Linked DNA regions of Homo sapiens: region 1 is linked to region 2. Evidence: fine-mapped expression QTL. A gene starts in region 2. The other region holds a variant in brackets. All regions are shown on one strand. Distances are from middle to middle. Region 1 has its middle 43 kb from the start of CCDC91. Region 2 holds the start of CCDC91 (coiled-coil domain containing 91).

Evidence for each region. PIP is the estimated chance that this variant, and not a neighbour inherited with it, causes the effect.
Region 1: its variant is the best candidate, but not a certain one, in a credible set for the expression of CCDC91 in whole blood (TOPMed, PIP 0.62).

Annotation. Positions count from the first base shown.
Region 1 is chr12:28,144,621-28,150,001 of GRCh38, forward strand. No RefSeq gene overlaps it. Among named protein-coding and RNA genes, the nearest start is that of CCDC91, 43 kb to the right of the region's middle. The variant A/G (reference allele first, on the strand shown) is at 2,794.
Region 2 is chr12:28,188,040-28,193,420 of GRCh38, forward strand. It overlaps CCDC91 (coiled-coil domain containing 91), which reads left to right and starts at 2,417. Exons shown (of 13, transcript NM_018318.5): 1 at 2,417-2,602. LOC729291 (a long non-coding RNA gene) reads right to left here and starts at 2,699. Exons shown (of 1, transcript NR_148936.1): 1 at 1-2,699. RefSeq lists silencers at 2,384-2,433, 2,464-2,893, 3,577-3,871.

The DNA of each region.
Region 1 (5,381 bases), 43 kb before region 2:
TGCAATCCAAATGGCACGGGAAAGAAGTACCAAACACCTTCCTTCATTCAGCTATTCTCTGTCTCTAGTCATTTTCTCTATTCATTTGTTATTCATTCAACCAACATGCATTGAGCACATATTATGCACTAAGTATAATTAAACCACTGAAGTGAAGATGAATGAGACATGTTTGCTAGCCTTACAGGCCTCTAGGATTGATTGAGTCCCCCTCATGTTATAAACTACCACATAATGAGAAAAATGCTAATGGAGACATTGCACCTCCATGCTCATTTACGAGAATGATCATAAGAAGATGCACATAAGGGGTGATGTTTATGGAATCTTCAAAGACTGAGCAGGAATTTGCCAGGTGCACAAGAGGGGAAAACCTTTCAGGCAAATGCACCAGCCTGTCGAGCAACATTGAAATGTGAACTAGCATGGCATGTTTGCAAGAAGACAGTCGAGGCTGAACCTAGGTAGTGGTTCAGTAAGGCAGTAAGGCAAATCAGGGAGATAAAATTAATGGGGCGAGAAGGAGCCAAATCAGGAAGGGCTGTTTATGTTCATCAAGGAAAGGAGGTGATGTTTTTTCTTACGGGTGTTCTAAGTCACTGAAAGGTGTTAAACAGAGAAGAAACATAGTTTTGTGCTTTAAGTACCAGAAGCAAAAATGTAGGCTACAGATTCAAGAGGAAAAAAAGGTAGGAGAGCCTGCCAGCAATGAGAACTGGTAGGAGGCTACTGCAGCAGAACAGGCAGGAAATGATGAGGCTTGGAAGCGAGACAGAAGCAGTGGTGCTGGAGTGGATTCCATGTATATCCATAGAGTCGCTGAGACTGAATGACTGATTGGATACGTGAGTAAGGAAGAGGAAGTGATCCCGAAGTTTCTAACTTGGACACTAAGATATAATTAAATGAAAGGAAGTTGGACTGGAAAGATGATAAAAGAGAATTTAATTTTGGATATGTTAAGTTTAAGGCATTTGTGATAGATTTAGCAGGATATCTATTAGGAGCCTAGCAAGTCTGAAGTTCAAGAGAGGGGTTTATACTGAAGATAAAAAGTTGAGAGTCATAAATACATGGTACTTGATATTATAGGAGTCGGTGAGATTACCCTGGGAGAGTGTATAGAAGAAAACAACAAGTGCAAGTCCCGGCACTTTGGGAGCTTGAAGCAGGAGGATCTCTGGAAGCCAGGAGTTCGAGACTAGTCTGGGTGAAATAGTGAGACCCTGTCTCTACAAAAAAAAAAAAAAAAAAAAATTAAGAAGCCAGGTGATATGGTTTGGCTGTGTTCCCACCCAAATCTCATCTTGAATTGTAGCTCCCATAATCCCCACATGTTGTGGTAGGACCTGGTGGGAGGTAATTGAATCATGGGGGCAGGTTTTTCCCATGCTGTTCTGGTGACAGTGAGTAAGTCTCATGAGATCTGATGGTTTTATATAGGGCAGTTCCCCTGCACACACTCTCTTGCCTGCAGCCATGTAAGTTGTGCCTTTGCTTCTCCTTCACCTTCCACCATGATTGTGAGGCCTCCCCAGCCATGTGGAATTGTGAGTCAATTAAACGTCTTTTTCTTTATAAATTACCCAGAGTCGGGTATTTCTTCATAGCAGTATGAAAGTGGACTAATGTAGTCTTAGCTACCCAGGAGGCTGAGGCAGGGGGATCATTGAGCTCAGGAATCATATTTCAGCCTGGGTGACAAAACATGACCCCACTGAAAGAAAGAAAGAAAGAAAGAAAGAAAGAAAGAAAGAAAGAAAGAAAAAGAGAGAAAGAAAGAAAAGAAGAAGGAAGAAAGAGGAAGGAAGGAAGGGGAGAAAAAACAAGTGTAAGGACAAAATCTTATCTTGGAGAAAATTCAGAGTGTAAAAGAAACTAATGTAGAAAAAGAAACTAAGGAAGGAGAAGATGGAGCAAATAGAAGTAGAAGATTAAGTAATTGCCATATAAAGGCAAACATTTCAAATGGCGCTTGGTAAATATTTTAAATTTTTTTGTAAAATAGGTTGAGATAATAACTGAAAAGTGCTCATCAGATTTTAAAGCTACAGAGTCTTTGGAAGCCATCACAAGAACAACGTTTTGGGAGCAAAGCAGGGAGAAGTCAGACTGCAATGGATTCAAGAGCGAAAAAGGAAGGGAGGGAGTAACAACATCAGGGTGGGTTACTTTTTTCAAGAAGTTTGAGTATGAATAAAAGGAGAAGGAGATCTCCTCCTCCTCCTCCTTCTTTCTTCTTCTCCTCCTCCTCCTTTCTTCTTTTCCTCCTTCTCCCCCCTCCTCTTCCTCCTCCTCCTTCTTCTCTTTCTTTGTTTTTAAGAAAGGAAACATTTTTCTCTAAAATAAAGGAAAAAGGCTCTATTCCATAGAGGTGCTCTGATTTGGGAGACTGCTACAAACATCTGCTTTTAAGAATAATTTTTTCATCTTAGGTTTTTCTCATCTATAGTTATGTTTCCAGGAGCACAGTTTGATCTATAGCAGACCGACCTCTATGTTAATAGCCTTTTGCCCTACAATAAGATTCTATTCTATTTACACAGAAGAGTATGTGGACTGAAGCCAACAACTAGAAAGAAAGGAAAATCACTCAGTGAAATGAAATCTGCTCAGCAAAATGTGTAACAGTGTAACCATATATCATAGTATTTTTTATTATTTTCTCTTTACTAAGTTTATTTGATGGATCAAGCATTAATTCTTTTTTCTTTTTCTTTTTTTTTTTTTTTTTTTTGAGATAGAGTCTCACTCTGTCACCCAGGCTGGAGTGCAATGGTGCGATATCGGCTC[A/G]CTGCAACCTCTGCCTTCCGGGTTCAAGCGATTCTCCCTGCCTCAGCCTCCTGAGTAGCTGGGGTTACAGGAGCCCACCACCGTGCCTGGCTAATTTTTTTATTTTTAGTAGAGATGGTGTTTCGCCATGTTGGCCAGGCTGGTCTTGAACTCCTGACCTCAGGTGATCTGCCCACCTTGGCCTCCCAAAGTGCTGGGATTACAGGCATGAGCCACCGTGCCCAGCCTCAAGCATTAATTTTTAAAGCTATTCAACATGCACTTACTTTGTACAAAGTCGAAAGTGTTAGAGGTAATCTAATGACAATTATGTACTAACATACCTGAGCCTCTCTCTGTTTCCTTACATATGTAGAAAAAATGCAATGCATAAAGTGATTCGAATCCATATGGTTCTCACATTTGGGAAATTTAAAACCTATTTCAGACATTACCTTAGCCAGCTTCACAGCTCTAAAAAACTCTTTTTCTGAACTCTATATTATCACCTTAGGTGGAAAGTAAGGTGTGTGTCATTATGTTGAATTCTGCCTTCTATTCCAGACAGTACAGCTTTTGCAAACAGTTTTGTCTGACTACATGGTTTTTTGAGTCCCACAAATGAAGTACTCTGTTATCTACTTTTCCCACTCCCAGCCTCTATTTTACAGATGAGAAAACCTGAATGTATATCTTTACAGAGTTTGAAGACAGAGAAGAATCTTGAAGACTAAGGCTGCTTTTTGCTTGTAACTAAAAGCAGAATGACTGGAACTGGCAACAGGAAGGCTGTCTTGAAACCAGGCAGATTCTCTCTCATTTCTCATTTCTCCTTCATTCTTCTGTGTTTCTTCAATCCTGCTTCCTCTATGTCTTAGTCAAAAAGGTAGAATATAGCCCTACTTTATATGCTACAACATTAAATATGCCCTAAGCATAGAATACTGAATCTCTTTCTCTCCAACCACAGTTCCAAACCCCTGAGGGAAACACAGTGGTTCAGTTTGTAAGCCTAATGGATGCTTCTTGCCGGCTGCACAGGTACAGCTGGTTCACTGAGACAGTGGTATTGCTATAACGCAAGAGTTTAATTAATGCAGGGCTAAACCATGTGCAATACGGGAGTTGATTACTCAAATCAGTCTCCCTGAAAATTCGGAAACTAGGGTTATTTTAAGAATAATTTGGCAGGCAGGGGGCTAGGGAATGGGGAATGTTAATTGGTCAGGCTGGTGATGAAATTACAACAGATCAAAGCTGTTTTCTTGCAGTCTTCAGTTCCTGGGTGGGATCACAAGACCGATTGAGCCAGTTTACGGGTCCAGGTGGCACTAGCAGGTGCATCAGAAAGCAGGGTCTGAAAAATACCTGTGACACTAACCTTAGGTTTTAAAATAGTGATGTTATCTATAGGTACAATTGGGAGGTTATAATGCTTGTGACCTCTGGCTACATGACTCTTGAACCATAATTTCTAATCTTGTGACTAATTCGTTAGTTTTACAAATGTGATTTCAATACCCAAGCAAGGAGGGAGCAGTTTTTGGGAAGGGCTATTATCTTCCTTGCTGTAAGGTTAAACTATAAACTGAATTCCTCCTGAAGTTACCTTGGCCTACACCCAGGAATGAACAAGGTCTGCTCGGAGGTTAGACGCAAGATAGAGTCAGCTATGTCACATTTTTCTTACTGTCATGATTTTGCAAAGGTGCCTTCCAGTTTGGATTGAATATCCTCTCAGAATACAGTCAGCTGTGGTCCAAAAGTACAATCACATTGCCTAACATGGCTTCCAGGCATATATCTCTGTAGCTGGAAGCAGAAATAGTTAAAGGGATCATTGTAGGCCAAGCGGATATTAAGCAGATATTCTAAAATGTGTCCATTAGAAAAGCTACTCCCACTTTGTGTTATCAGAAACGCTACTCCCATTTTGCCTCCACTCCCCATCCGAAACACACTATTCTATAGGTCAAGGTTATATGGGAGAATTCTTGATGCACTTCTCTTTTCACTACATGATTTATCTTTCTTGACAATAGGCTGATTATCATTAAGTAAGCTGCAAGAAATGCCAGTCAGCTTCTTTTTACGCACTCTAAATCCCTTTCTCCTACTTTCCTATTCATTTCTTTCTGAGAAATTAAAGATAATGCTGCATGTATGTTAGAGAGACAATTTTTTTCAGAAGATCTTAGCCTGGTAGTAGCAATTCCTTCTTTTTTAACAATAAATTTTACTGTGTATATTTGAGTTTTTCATGTTGTTATGTGATACATGTAGATAGTAAAATGGTTACTGTAGTGAAGCAGGTTAGCATATCGATCATCTCACATCGTTATCTTTTTGTGACAAGAGCAGCTAAAATCTACTTATTTAACAGAAATCCAATCCAATACAAATTTGTATTAACTTTATCCCTGTACATTAGATCTCTAAGCCTCTCTATCCTTCATATCTGCTATTTTGTATTCTTTGACTTATGTTTCTCCATTTCCTCTCCCTGCAACCCCACAGTGGTAACCACTGTTTCATTCTCCATTTCCGTGTATCTGGGCTATTTTTTTTCTTTAATTCCACATTTAAGTAAGATCATGCAATATTCTGTG
Region 2 (5,381 bases):
TAGAGAAATTAGAGCCCTCATACATTGCTGGTGAGAAAGTAAAATGGTACAGCCACTTTGGAAAACAGTGTGGTAGTTCCACAAGGGGTTAAACATAGAGTTACCATATGACCCCGCAATTCCACTCTTAGGTATATATCCAAGAGAAATGAGAACATATGTTGACACGAAAACTTGTACATGAATGTCAACAGGAGCATTATTCATAATATTCAAAAAGCTGAAACAACCCAACCGATGAAGGGACTTTGAAAACATGTTAAGTGAAAGAAGCCAGTCACAAAAGACCACACATTGCATGATTCCATTTATATGAAATGTTCAAGATAGACAAATGCATACAGACGGAAAGTGGATTACTGGTTGCCTAGGGCTGGGGAGAGGAGGGAGAAGTTGGGGCCAAAGGGTATGGGGTTTCTTTTTGGGGCTGTGAAAATACTCTAAAATCGAATGTGGTAAAGCATGCATAACTCTGTGAATATACTAAAATCACTGAATTGTTTATAAAGAAAAAGATTACTGTGGGGAAGGAAGAAAGATTTCATGGAGTTGGTAGGATTTGAATTCACTGATAAATAAGTGATATAAAAAGCAAAGTGATGTGCTATAGTGAATAAACAAGCCCTTCTGTTGGGCAGATCTGGCTTTAAATCCACTTGGTCAATTTACACTTCCTAAATCTGTAACCTCATCTAAAGTGTAAATATATTAATATACCTACTTTGTAAAATTATTGTGGTAAGTTATATATGGGATTTAAAATATTTAATCTAATGCCAGGCACATAGCAAATATTAATAATAAATATTAGTTACTTATTATAAATCTGTTTAGTATGGAATACAGTTTAGTATTGAATATCGGGACAGAGTGAACATGTAAGTACATCAATGGGAAGGAACTCCCAGAAACTAATCTGGTTTCCAGCAGAAAGAGATATGAGAGACAAAATAATATAAAGGTAACCTTACTAAGTTTAAGAAATATTTATGAATACCTTTTTTCTAACTACTAGACACTTTGCTAGACTGCTGGATACACAAAGACAAATGAGAAGTGAGTAGATTGCTGGATATACAAGTGAGAAGTGGTCCTTGACTTGGTAGTCTAGTAGACAGATAAAAAAATATGTGTAAGAAAGCATTACATTTCTTACAATAGAAATGTTTTTTGTATGCATAAAGAAGGGGGTGGGCTGGAAAAAGAATGTAGTCAAGGTGACTTGCTCAATACTGAAACTGCTCATTAACTACTTAGGCCAGCACTTATGGCAGACTTGTCAGGATGCCTTGCTAATATTTTCCACTTCCAGTACAGAACAGAGATTACAGGTTTAAGCCAATTTTGTTCAACAGATGAGAAACCCAGTGTCCAAGGATGAAAGAATACTTGTTATACAAGGAATGTGAATATTCCAGAGATTTATGCTCAAAGTCCCCAGGTTAGTGTCTTTCTTTCTCACTAGACTGTAAGCTTCTTGAAGACAAATATCTTGAGTGTTACCTTGCTCACTCTTGAATTGTCAAAACTTGGCCCAGGACTAGGTATGTGGTATACAATCAATAAAAATTTGTTGAATGAATGTTCTTCAAAATCCTTCCATGGCAAAAACAGAAGAAACATTCACGAGTGGACTGCTAGTTGACTGTTTCTCTCATCGCTATTGACAGTCTGAAATGGACAAAGACATCTATATAATCATTCCTTCCTTTCAAATAAATAATCTGTGAATTACGCTATTCTTTTCCTATTGCTTCAGGACAAGCTATTTGACAGAAAGCTTTTAAGAAAGGCTTTGCAAGAAAACTCTGCAACAGAGATGGCACGTATGAATTGCTGTGATCTGGAGTTGAAGACAAGAACAAAAGTAACTCTAGAGCAGAATTCTTTGACCAAAGTCATCTTACTGGTTGGCGGAGGCTCTCAGTCTACTTGCATCCGGTGCTTGAGAGTTCAGACAGGCAAAGATGAGAGGTAGCATCTAGTCAACATCCATTTCTTGAGCACTTACTACATGTCAGCCACTTTGCTTAGTCCCCGGTTTTACTGTGCTCTGCTAGGAAGTGGTGAAGAGATTCGGCGGGATCTTCTTAGGACCAATCCTACAAAGTTCCAGATGGAACTCATTTTGATTTGGGGGACGGTTTACTTGCAGGGATTAGGTGGAGAAACAGGGCCTGCTACTCAAGAGGAATGAGAAACTGTAACTAACAGGAGGTAGACTGGGAAGGAGCATGGCAAAGTCACCCCTTTTCACAGGGCAACGCTCCAAAGACCACGCTCAAGCTGGGGTGGCAGGGCTCTGAACATGGGGCCCCGACCCGGGCCTCGGCCTGGGGCCACGTGACGCGCGTGTTTACGTTGAGTGACGGGCGCTGTGTTGGGCGGGCCTTGGCGGAAATCAACTTCCGGGGGCAGAGGTGTTCGAAGCCGGGTGGTGCGTGGGCTACCCCAACCTGTGTGGCTGGGCCGCGGTCTCCCCTCAAGGGCCTGGGGCCGTGCCTCGGGTGTACGCGTAGGGGTCTGTGTGCTGGGGGTGGCTCACCGGGCAGCGTGGGTGAGCGGCGCAGCGGCGGCAGCGGAGAGCGAGAGAGGGGAGCAGGTAAGTGAACGCTCGCCTTCCGGGGCCTGGGTCTTGGGGTCGGGGCCGCGCGAGGCGAGCGGAGAGCGCCCCACCGGGGGAGGAGCGCGGACGAGCTTCCGCCGCCTGCAGCCCGCCTGCTGCGGCCTCGCCCTTGGCTGTCGCAGCGACCAGGAGTCAGGGGGCGTGACCAACCTCCTGCGGGAACGGAGCCAGCTCCCGGGGGTGGGAGTGCCCACTCGTTCCTGCGCTCGCCGGTGGGTACCGGTATCTGCACGTCCCAGAATCGAGTGTTTTCGAAAGTCTACGCCCACGAACACGTGATTATTGTGTCACCGAAGCGCCTACCGAACGGAGACCTTGATTCTTGCTTAGATTACACAGAACGCGCCTGGTTTATGTATCCCCTTTTACTTTGCCAAGTACATTGGGGTAAAAGCTCTACAGCGTCTGCCAGCCACATTTCCTTAGAGTTTCTTGGGCCACATGTTGCAATAAAAGTGGCATTTCAGGGTCAAGGCAGGAGCCAGTAACTTTGCCAAGTGGTGAGGTATCCTTCGTCCCCGTTAGCACGCCTCCCTTTCCCAACAATAAAGATATTTTCTCCATCTGCGCGTGTCGCCTACTGCGGAGGAAAGCTTTGGACATGAAACCTATTTTTGGCTTCACTTTAAGGAGTGGAACTCTATTAAAAGCTGCGCTGGTGTTTTTTTGGTAGGATGATGTTGCTGCTGCTACTCTCACTTGCTTCCTTGATGAGAGTTGGGGCAGAGCTCGATTTCCTGGAGGGTAAAGTCTTGGCCACAATTTTAGGTGACTCAGCGGCCCCTTATGAATTCTGACTCTTTCCTTCCCTCCCCTCTCAGCTGTGCGGATACTGATGCCACCTTTCTCTCCAAATATTAATCCGGGTGGGAGTTGGATGATGGTTTTTGGAAGCAGTTTGCATGTTGCGTGGTGGAGTTATTGGAGTGGGCTGACATTTTACTTCACAATTTAAGGCAACCCTTCCCCCCCCCACAATATTTAGTTGGGTGGGGTGACAGGGACTGACAACAAATTCGCTGTTGTGTTCCCTGCTGTCGGAGAGTTCTACACTTAATGATCACCTGATTGCCCTCTGCTACAATTTCTATTGCGTTGAGGGGATTGGTTATACTGTCTGTACCTATTAGGTAAATGTAGTAAGGGTCATGCCAGGCAGAGTGCACCTGCATGGTGTTGGCTAACCAGTAAACTGTGTGGTAGAGAATTGCCCTGGTTACGAAGTTTGGTATCCTCCAGGCTGCCTAGGAGGGTGTTCTGTGGGCTGGGAAATCTTATGAACTGGTTTCCTAGCAACAGTATAAGCCCAATGGAATAAACATAAAGAAAACAAAGTGATGAAAGTTACAACTTACCTCTTAACTTTTATTAAATGGAAAAATGTAGCTTCTTATTGGAGTGATCCACTCAAAACTTCTGAGACATTTTTGTTTATTTTGATCATCTTAGTACTTAATAACACACAAAAGAAACTGCAGAAAATCATTCCAGAGGGACATCACTTTGGTTTTGGGTGGCATTAAAATAGAGAAAAAAGACGTTTAAAAATGAGCTTGTCTGGAGCTTAAATGGACAAACAGGAATTTGGTGTAATAGGCATTTTATGTTGTACTCTTATCTATATGTGTCAGATGTATGCATTACATATGATTGTTATGAATGAAGATAGTAGAAGACGGAGTGGGAGTGGAGTAGAGTGGATGGGTGGATAAGACTGGTTCCATTAAGTAAAATGGAAGGGGAATGTTTTAGATAAGTTGTTCCCAAACTGTAGGTCATAATTACAGCACTCCTTTGTCAACCTGTTCCTTGTGATTTTTAATCTTCCTTGAAAGTTTATCAAATTTTCTTATTTTCTGTCCAAACAATGAGAACTTAATTGAAAAAGGCATCTCTCTTTGGATTAACTCTTGGTGTTTATGTATATCTGTTTCTTATTTACTAACGATAAATTAATATTTTAGATTTCCAGTATTTTAAGGATTTTTGGTCTCCTTACTGTTCCTCCCTGCCCTATTCCCATACCCAGTAAGTTTGGTTTAGCTCATTTAAACTGATGCATATTTTTAAAAAGGGCATATGTTGCTTTTTTTAAAAAAAATCAAGTTTTATTGAGGTATGATTTATAAGTAAAAAAGTAATTTTTATTATATTGCTGTATAAAGTCTGACAAATGCATATAATGGAACCACTGCCACAATCCAGACAAATAATATTCCCATCATTCTAAAGTTTCCTCCCCTCACTCATAGGTCCTAGCAACCACTGATCTGTTCTCTGTCCCTGTCTATAGCTTTGTCTTTTCTGGTATGTTATGTAAATGGAATCATACAGTATGTAGCCTTATGTTTCAGGTTTCTTTCACTTAATGCTTTGATTCATCCATGTTGATGCATGTTTGTTGATGCTTGGTTGTTTTTTACAGCTGAGTAGTATTTCATTGTGTGAATATATCATAGTATGTTTATTCGCCATTTGATGAACAATTTTTGGCATTTAGGAATGAAGGTACTGTAAACATTCATGTGCTGTTCTTTGTACATTAAGGTGCAAGTCTTTGTGTAGACATATGTTTTCATTTCTTTTGGTTACACATCTAGGAATGGAATTCTTGGGCCGTGTGCAAGTGCATGTTTAACCTTAAAAGAAATTACCAGCTGGGCGCAGTGGCTCAGACTTGTAATCCCAGCACTTTGGGAGGCCGAGGTGGGCAGCTCACGAGGTCAGGAGATTGAGACCATCCTGGTCAACATGG